Homo sapiens: one gene and its partner. The protein of the gene in region 2 purifies or fractionates together with the protein of the main gene of each other region. This does not show direct contact. Each region holds a gene or a part of one and is shown on either strand. Other genes may lie near its edges.

Region 1 (3,500 bases), on a different chromosome or scaffold from region 2:
TTTATATTACATTACAATTATATTTTTATATATAATTATATATATATTTTTAATATTATATTATATTTTTATTTTATATATTATAATTATAAATATTTTTATATTTATATTTTTATAAATATAATTATATTTTTATATAAAATTAAATATAATTTAATTTTATATAATTATAAATATTTTTATATTTTATATTTATAATTATAATTTATATTATATATTTATATTTATATATTTATATTTATTTATATTTATATATTTAAATATTTATATTTATAGTATATATAATATAATATATTATATTATATATAATTATAAACATATATAATTATTATATTATAATTATAATTATAATGCTTTTAATAGTAATAATACTTTTAATAATAATAGACAAGTGATTAGCTTTTAATGCTAATCACTTTAATAATGCTTTTAATAATAATAATGCTTTTAATGCTTAATAATAGACAAGTGATTAGCTTTTAATGCTGAGATTTTGCAACTTGGAGGCTGTGCGACTCTAGACAAGTGACTTAGTTCATTGCTTCTCAAACTTTAATGTGTATGCACGACACCTGGGGAATCTTGTTTAAAAGGCAGTCTGATTCATCAGGGCCTGAGATTCTGCATTTCCTTTTTTTTTCCCCTTTTTCTGGAGACAAGATCTCCCTCTGTTGCCCAGGCTGGAATGCAGTGGTGCAATCCATAGTTCACTGCAACCTCAAACTCCTGGGCTCCAGTGATCCTCCCACCTCAGCCTCCCAAGTAGCTAGGACTGTGGGTATGTGCTGCTATGCCAAGCTAGTTTTTAAATTTTTTGTAGAGATGGAATCTTGCTGTGTTGTCCAGGCTGGTCTCAAACTCCTGGCCTCAAGCAATCTTCCTGCCTCGACTTCCCATAATGCTGGGATTACAGATGTGAGCCACCACGCCCAGCCAGATTCTGTATTTCTAACAAACTCCTAGATGATCCAAGTAGCTAAGCCTATTTGTGTCTGAGTGGCTTCAACTATGAGAACCTCAGCTGTAAAGTAGGAGGCAGATGGTATGTACCTTACATCAATGCACCTTTATGCCGAAGAGGTCTTCTCAAGAGTGTGTTTGGCAGGAGAGCCATGACTGGGTCTTTCCTCCTTTCACAAGGCTTGACCTTGGGTGGGGACCTCAGACTTGCCACCTCTCCACAGCTGCCTAAGATAGCTGCCTGGGTGACTCATGTCTTGGGAGAAGTCTTGTTGTAGTGACTTTTTTTTTTTTTTTGAGACGGAGTTTCGCTCTTGTTATTCTTATTATCATTTTTGAGATGGAGTCTTGCTCTGTCTCCCAGGCTGGCGTGCAATGGTGTGACCTTGGCTCACTGCAACCTCTGCCTCCCAGGCTGGAGTGCAATGGTGCAACCTTGGCTCACTGCAACCTCTGTCTCCCAGGTTCAAGCAATTCTCCTGCCTCAGCCTCCCCAGTAGCTAGGATTACAGGCACACACCACCGTGCCTGGCTAATTTTGTATTTTTAGTAGAGACGGGGGTTTCATCATGTTGGTCAGGCTGGTCTCAAGCTCCCAACCTCAGGTGATCCGCTCGCCTTGGCCTCCCAAAGTGTTGGGATTACAGACATGAGCCACTGCACCCGGCCTGTAGTGACTTGTTAATGCATAAGCCTTCTGGCTTTACGACTTCTGCCTTGTAATTCCCACAGCTTGGGCAGATTCATTCAACCTGGGGTTCCGATGTGTTACTTATCCCTGGCTCTTTGTCCTTTGCCTACAGGTGGTGGCCTTTATGAAGTCTCCAGTGGGTCAGTACTTGGACAGCCATCCGTTTCTGGCCTTCACCTTGCTGGTGTTCATTGTCATGTCGGCCGTTCCTGTTGGATTCTTCCTGCTCATCGTGGTGCTTACCACCCTGGCTGCTCTGCTGGGGGTCATAATATTGGAAGGTAGCCTGTTCCGTCATTCACCCCTTTAGAAAATAATTCAATTGGGAGAAAAATACTTTTGGGGCCATTTAAAAATTTTTTTAAGGGGCGGGGTCTTGTTATGTTGCCCAGGCTGGTCTCAAACTCCTGGGCTCAAGTGATCCTCCCACGTCGGCCTGCCAAAGTGCTGGGATTATGGCCATGGGCTACCATGCCTGGTTGTCTGCCATTCTTGTCAAAATCACATCAAGCAAGGCAACTTATCAGAGTAGGTAAAACATAGACTCTGGAGCCTGCATTCAAATCCCACCTCCACCACTGTGATTTGGGGCAAGTGGTTTACCTCTCTGAGCCTTAAATTCTTAATATGTAAAATGCAGATATAATAATACAATCTCAAAAGGTTGTTGTGAAGATTGAAACTTATGGCTCCATAAAGTCCTTAGCACAATACACAATACATGTCACAGAGTAGCTTCTCAATGAATGCTAGCTATTATTATTAAGCAGAGAGGCCATTCATTCCACAGTGAGTTATTGGGCACCTACTGCATGCCAGATGCCTCGCTAGGTACTGGAGACCACCTTCATCCTTCCTCCTGAAGTTCCACTACCAACAGTCAACTTCTCCCTGTATTCCTAAGTTAAAATTACTGGGAAAGCAAATCTGATTTGCTCACTTTGACTTTTCAAATCAGATCACACACCCCAGGCAAGTGGCCAAAGAGATGGTGGCCAGTGGGTCAGGTGATCACTTCTGGTCCATTCCGTGGCTTCCCAGAGCTAAGAGCACCCAGGGCTGTTTATTTGCCCCAGGGACAAGGCAGTTTACACTTGAAGGAGAAAGTAGGCATGGTCAGTGGATGAGCCAAATACAGCCTGGCAGAGTGGTTTTTGAGTAAATGTTGATAGATAGATGGGTGAATGCATGAATGAATGGATGGAGGAATGAATGAGTACCATAAGAAAGGAAATTTATAGAGAAAGGAGAGAGCCATTACATTTTGGTGGTACCATGCAAAGCTTTACAGCAGACAAGACTTTAAGGATGCATAACAACTTTGCCTCAGGGTGGGCAAGGAAGGGCCTTTTGGACAGGGGAACAGCATGTGCAAAGCCTCTAGAATAGTGGTTCTTGAACCTGAGTGTATTTAAATCTTTTTTTTTTTTCTAGATGGAATCTTACTCTGTCGCCCAGCCTGGAATACAGTGGCATGATCTCAACTCACTGCAACCTCTGCCACCCAGGTTCAAGAAATTCTCCTGCCTCAGCCTCCCAAGTAGTTGGGATTACAGGCATGCCCCACCATGCCCGACTAATTTTTGTATTTTTGGTAGAGATAGGGTTTCGCCATGTTGGCCAGGATGGTCTTGAGCTCCCGACCTCAAGTGATCTGCCCACCTCGGCCTCCCAAAGTGCTGGGATTACAGGTGTGAGCCACTGCACCCAGCTCCAAGTGTGTATAAATCTTACTTTCTTTATCAAAATACAGACTTTGGATCTTTTGAGACCAGGAGTTCAAGACCACTCTGGGCAACATAGCGAGATTCCCTCCATCTCTTTAAAAAAAAAAAAAAAGAGGCCGGAC
Region 2 (4,279 bases):
CTGAAGGAGGTTTCATGGCTATTATTACCATGTTACGATCCCCCACCCCAATCCTGTGGGCTTTGAACCCAGGTCACTTGTCTTCTTCCAAGTAGCTGGGCTTTGCCTCTGTACCAGTTGTCCCCTGGCATCAGGAGGGCTGCTGGGGCAAAGGACAATGCCATTAGGGGCAGGGAGGCGTGAGAGACATGGGGCAGGGGTCACATAATTCACGACAGACCTAATGAGAAGGGTGAAGGAGAGAGATCCAGAAAGACTTCCAGATTTCCAGCCGGACATGGTGGCTCACACCTGTAATCCCAGCACTCTGGGAGGCCGAAGCAGACGGATCACCTGAGGTCAAGATTTCGAGACCAGCCTGGTCAACCTGGTGAAACCCCATCTCTACTAAAAATACAAAAATTAGCTGGGCATGATGGTGCATGCCTGTAATCCCAGCTACTCGGGAGGCTGAGGCAGGAGAATTGCTTGAACCCAGGAGGCGGAGGTTGCAGTTTGCCCAGATCGTGCCACTGCACTCCAGCCTGGGTAACAGAGTGAGACTCCATCTCAAAAAAAAAAAAAAAGAATTCCAGATTTCTGATCTGGGTGGTGAGTTGGACAACGGTGTCTCCCATTCACTGAGATGAAGCTGCAGGACTGGGGTGAGGTGGGGGAAAGCTGTTCTTGAGTCCTGGAGACCCTTCATCAGAGCTGGAAAGCCCCCAGCCCTTGAGTGACACCAATCCACCCACCTGGACCCCCCATCCCCGTGTCCACAGGCCCCACCATCTGAGATTGGCTGCAAGACCCCCCACTCACGGGCTGGATTTGCAGAGCTTGGGACGTGGAGGGTGGAGCTATGCTGAGACCAAAGGGTCCAGCAGGGAGAAGAATTAGGGTAGAGCTAGGAAATAGGACCTCCCAGGTTATGGTGCTGAGACCAGGGAGGAGGGAAACCTATGATATCCCACATGATCCCACAAGATCATTTCTATAGGAGAGGAAACGGGCTCAGAGTGGTGAAGTGATTTGCCCAAATTCACACAGCTAGAGGGTAAAACAGCCAAGATGCAAATCTTTTTTTTTTTTTTTTTTTTTTTTTTTCTGAGACAGGGTTTTGCTCTTGTTGCCCAGGGTTGCCCAGGCTGGAGTGCAATGGTGGGATCTCGGCTCACCGCAACCTCCGCCTCCCAGGTTCAAGCGATTCTCCTGCCTCAGCCTCTTGAGTAGCTGGGATTACAGGCATGCACCACCACGCGTGGCTAATTTTGTATTTTTAGTAGAGACAAGGTTTCTTCATGTTAGTCAGGCTGGTCTGGAACTCCTGACCTCAGGTGATCTGCCCGCCTCGGCCTCCCAAAGTGCTGGGATTACAGGTGTGAGCCACAGCTCCCGGTCCCAAGATGCAAATCTAATGGTGTCTGTCTTTCTCAACTGCCCCCTGTTATATGATCTTGGCTGACTGCAGCCTTGGCCTCCCAGGCTCAATCTATACTCCCACCTCGGCCTCCTAAGTGTGACTGAGTTGTGACCCCGACCACAAGCATGTGTATGTTTAAAAGAGATGAATGGGCCAGGTGCGGTGGCTCACACCTGTAATCCCAGAACTTTGGGAGGCCGAGGTGGGTGGATTACGAGGTCAGGAGTTTGAGACCAGCCTGGCCAATGCGGTGAAACCCTGTCTCTACTAAAGATACAAAAAATTAGCTGGGCGTGGTGGCGCACGCCTGTAATCCCAGCTACTTGGAAGGCTGAGGCAGGAGAATTGCTTGAACCTGGAGGTGGAAGTTGCAGTGAGCCGAGATCGCACCATTACACTGCAGCCTGCGCGACAGGGCAAGACTGCATCTGAAAAAAAAAAAAAGAGAGAGAGATGAATGAGCCAGGCGCAGTGGCTTATGTCTGTAATCCCAGCACTTTGGGGAGCTGAGGCGGGCAGATCACAAGGTCAGGAGATCGAGACCATCCTGGCTAACAGGGTCTCTACTAAAAATACAAAAAAAAAAAAAAATTAGCCAGGGATGATGGCACGTGCCTGTAGTCCCAGCTACTTGGGAGGCTGAGGCAGAAGAACTGCTTGAACCCAGGAGGCAGAGGTTGCAGTGAGCCGAGATCGCACCACTGCACTCCAGCCTGGGCAACAGAGCGAGACTCTGTCTCAAAAAAAAGAAAAAATGAATGGGAAAAACAATGATTCACCCATAGGAGTGACCCTCAATAGAGAAAATGCTGCCAGGTGCGGTGGCTCACACCTATAATCCCAGCACCTCAGGAAGCTGAGGTAGGAGGATCATGTGAGGCCAAGAGTTGGAGACCCGCCTGGGCAACGTAGTGAGACACCATCTCTACAAAATACAAAAATTAGTCAGGCGTGGTGGTGCACACCTATAGTCCCGGCTACTTGGAGGCTGAGGGGGGAGGATTGCTTGAGACCGGGAGTTGGAGGCTGCAACGAGCTGAGCCGGCACCACTGCGCTCCAGGCTGGGCGACAGAGCGAGACCCTGTCTCTAAATAAAGAAAAGAAAAGAAAATGTCAGCACTGTAGTTTGGAGTGGGGCTTCTGGGAGATGTCAGATTATTCTGGAAGGCAGGCAGCCACCTCGTTCCACTGGATGGGACAGGCAGGGCTTGGGCCCGGCAGCTCTGAGGTGGCTCTGTGAAGGGCCTGGTGTGTGGTCCCCACCCCACTTACCCCCAGCCCCCACTCACCAGCACTGAGAGCCTCGTAACCTGCAACAGGATCCCCAAAAGGCTGGATCTGACTGGAGGAAGGGCCTCCATGTCTGGCCTCCCCCACCTACTCCAGCTGGGAGAAGCAGGGTGACCTCACAGATGCCACAGGGTGGGGACCAAGTTACCATGGGGACCCGGTTGCCGCCAGTGACCCACTGCCTTTACCTGGCTCCTGCCGCTCCACTGCTTCCTCTGAAACCTCAGTCCACGTCTGAGCCCAACACGGCCAAGGAGGTCTTAGAGCAAAGCTTCCTTCGGGTCGGATTTCCCCAGATCTTGGAACAGGAATCAAGTGCCGCCTAGGAACGGGGTTCATGCCTGGATTCCCAATGCTTTGGGAGGCCAAGGTAGGAGGATCGCTTGAGGCCAGGAGTTTGAGACCAGCATGGGCAACATAGCAAGACCCTGTCTTACAAAAAAACAAAAAAAGAAAAAAATTAACCAGCCTTGGTCATGCACACCTGTAGTCCCAACTACTCAGGAGTCTAAAGTGGGAGAATCGCTTGAGCCCAGGAGATAGAAGTTGCAGTGAGCCAGGATCACTCAAGCCTGGGTGACAGAGCAAGACCCTATCTCTAAACAAAGAAAAAAAATTGAAGGGTGATGAGTTTATTTGGGGAGTGGGCCCTGCAAGCATCCATAGGAAGTCAGAAAGTGAGGCAAGGGGCCAGGCACAGTGGCTCACACCTGTAATCCCAGCACTTTGGAAGGCCGAGGCAGGCAGATCACGAGGTCAGGAGTTTGAGACCTGTTGGGAACAGGCCCCCAAAATCTGGCCATAAACTGGCCCCAAAACTGGCCATAAACAAAATCTCTGCAGCACTGTGACATGTTCGTGATGGCCATGACACCCACGGTGGAAGGTTGTGGGTTTACCGGAATGAGGGCAAGGAACACCTGGCCCACCCAGGGCGGAAAACTGCTTAAAGGCGTTCTTAAACCACAAACAAGAGCATGAGTGATCTGTGCCTTAAGGACATGCTCCTGCTGCAGATAACTAGCCAAACACATCCCTTTATTTGGGCCCAATCCCTTTGTTTCCCATAAGGGATACTTCTATGGGAATCTAATCTAATCTATAGTTAATCTAATATCTATAGAAACAATGCTAATGACTGGCTTGCTGTTAATAAATACGTGGGTAAATCTCCGTTTGAGGCTCTCAGCTCTGAAGGCTGTGAGACCCCCTGATTTCCCACTTCACACCTCTTTATTTCTCTGTGTGTGTGTGTGTGTGTGTGTGTGTGTGTGTGTGTGTTTAATTCCTCTAGTGCTGCTGGGTTAGGGTCTCCCCAGCCAAGCTGGTCTCAGCAGAGACCAGCCTGACCAACATGGTGAAACCCCGTCTCTACTAAAAATACAAAAAAAAAAAAAAATTGGCCTGGCATGGTGGCGTGCACCTATAATCTCAGCTGCTCAGGAGGCTGAGGCAGGAGAATTGCTTGAACCCAGAAGGCAGAGGTTGCAGTGAGCTGAGATCATGCCACTGTACTCCAGCCTGGGCAAGAGAGTGAGACTCTGTGATAAAAAGAGGGAAGGGGAGGGGAGGGGAGGGGAGGGGGA

What was found. Proteins that work in one complex are often made in the same cells at the same time.
Region 1: the proteins of TMEM270 (region 2) and LDAF1 purify together in Homo sapiens (affinity purification with mass spectrometry; one large-scale study listed by BioGRID and IntAct). This does not show direct contact.

What each region holds. Positions count from the first base shown.
Region 1 is NC_000016.10:21,168,674-21,172,173, forward strand, and holds part of LDAF1 (lipid droplet assembly factor 1), read left to right. Parts: intron 1-1,763; coding exon 1,764-1,932; intron 1,933-3,500. UniProt on the Homo sapiens protein: Plays an important role in the formation of lipid droplets (LD) which are storage organelles at the center of lipid and energy homeostasis. In association with BSCL2/seipin, defines the sites of LD formation in the endoplasmic reticulum.
Region 2 is NC_000007.14:73,859,680-73,863,958, reverse strand, and holds the start of TMEM270 (transmembrane protein 270), read right to left. Parts: upstream 2,801-4,279; 5' UTR 2,765-2,800; coding exon 2,693-2,764; intron 2,410-2,692; exon of another isoform or gene 2,368-2,409; intron 1-2,367.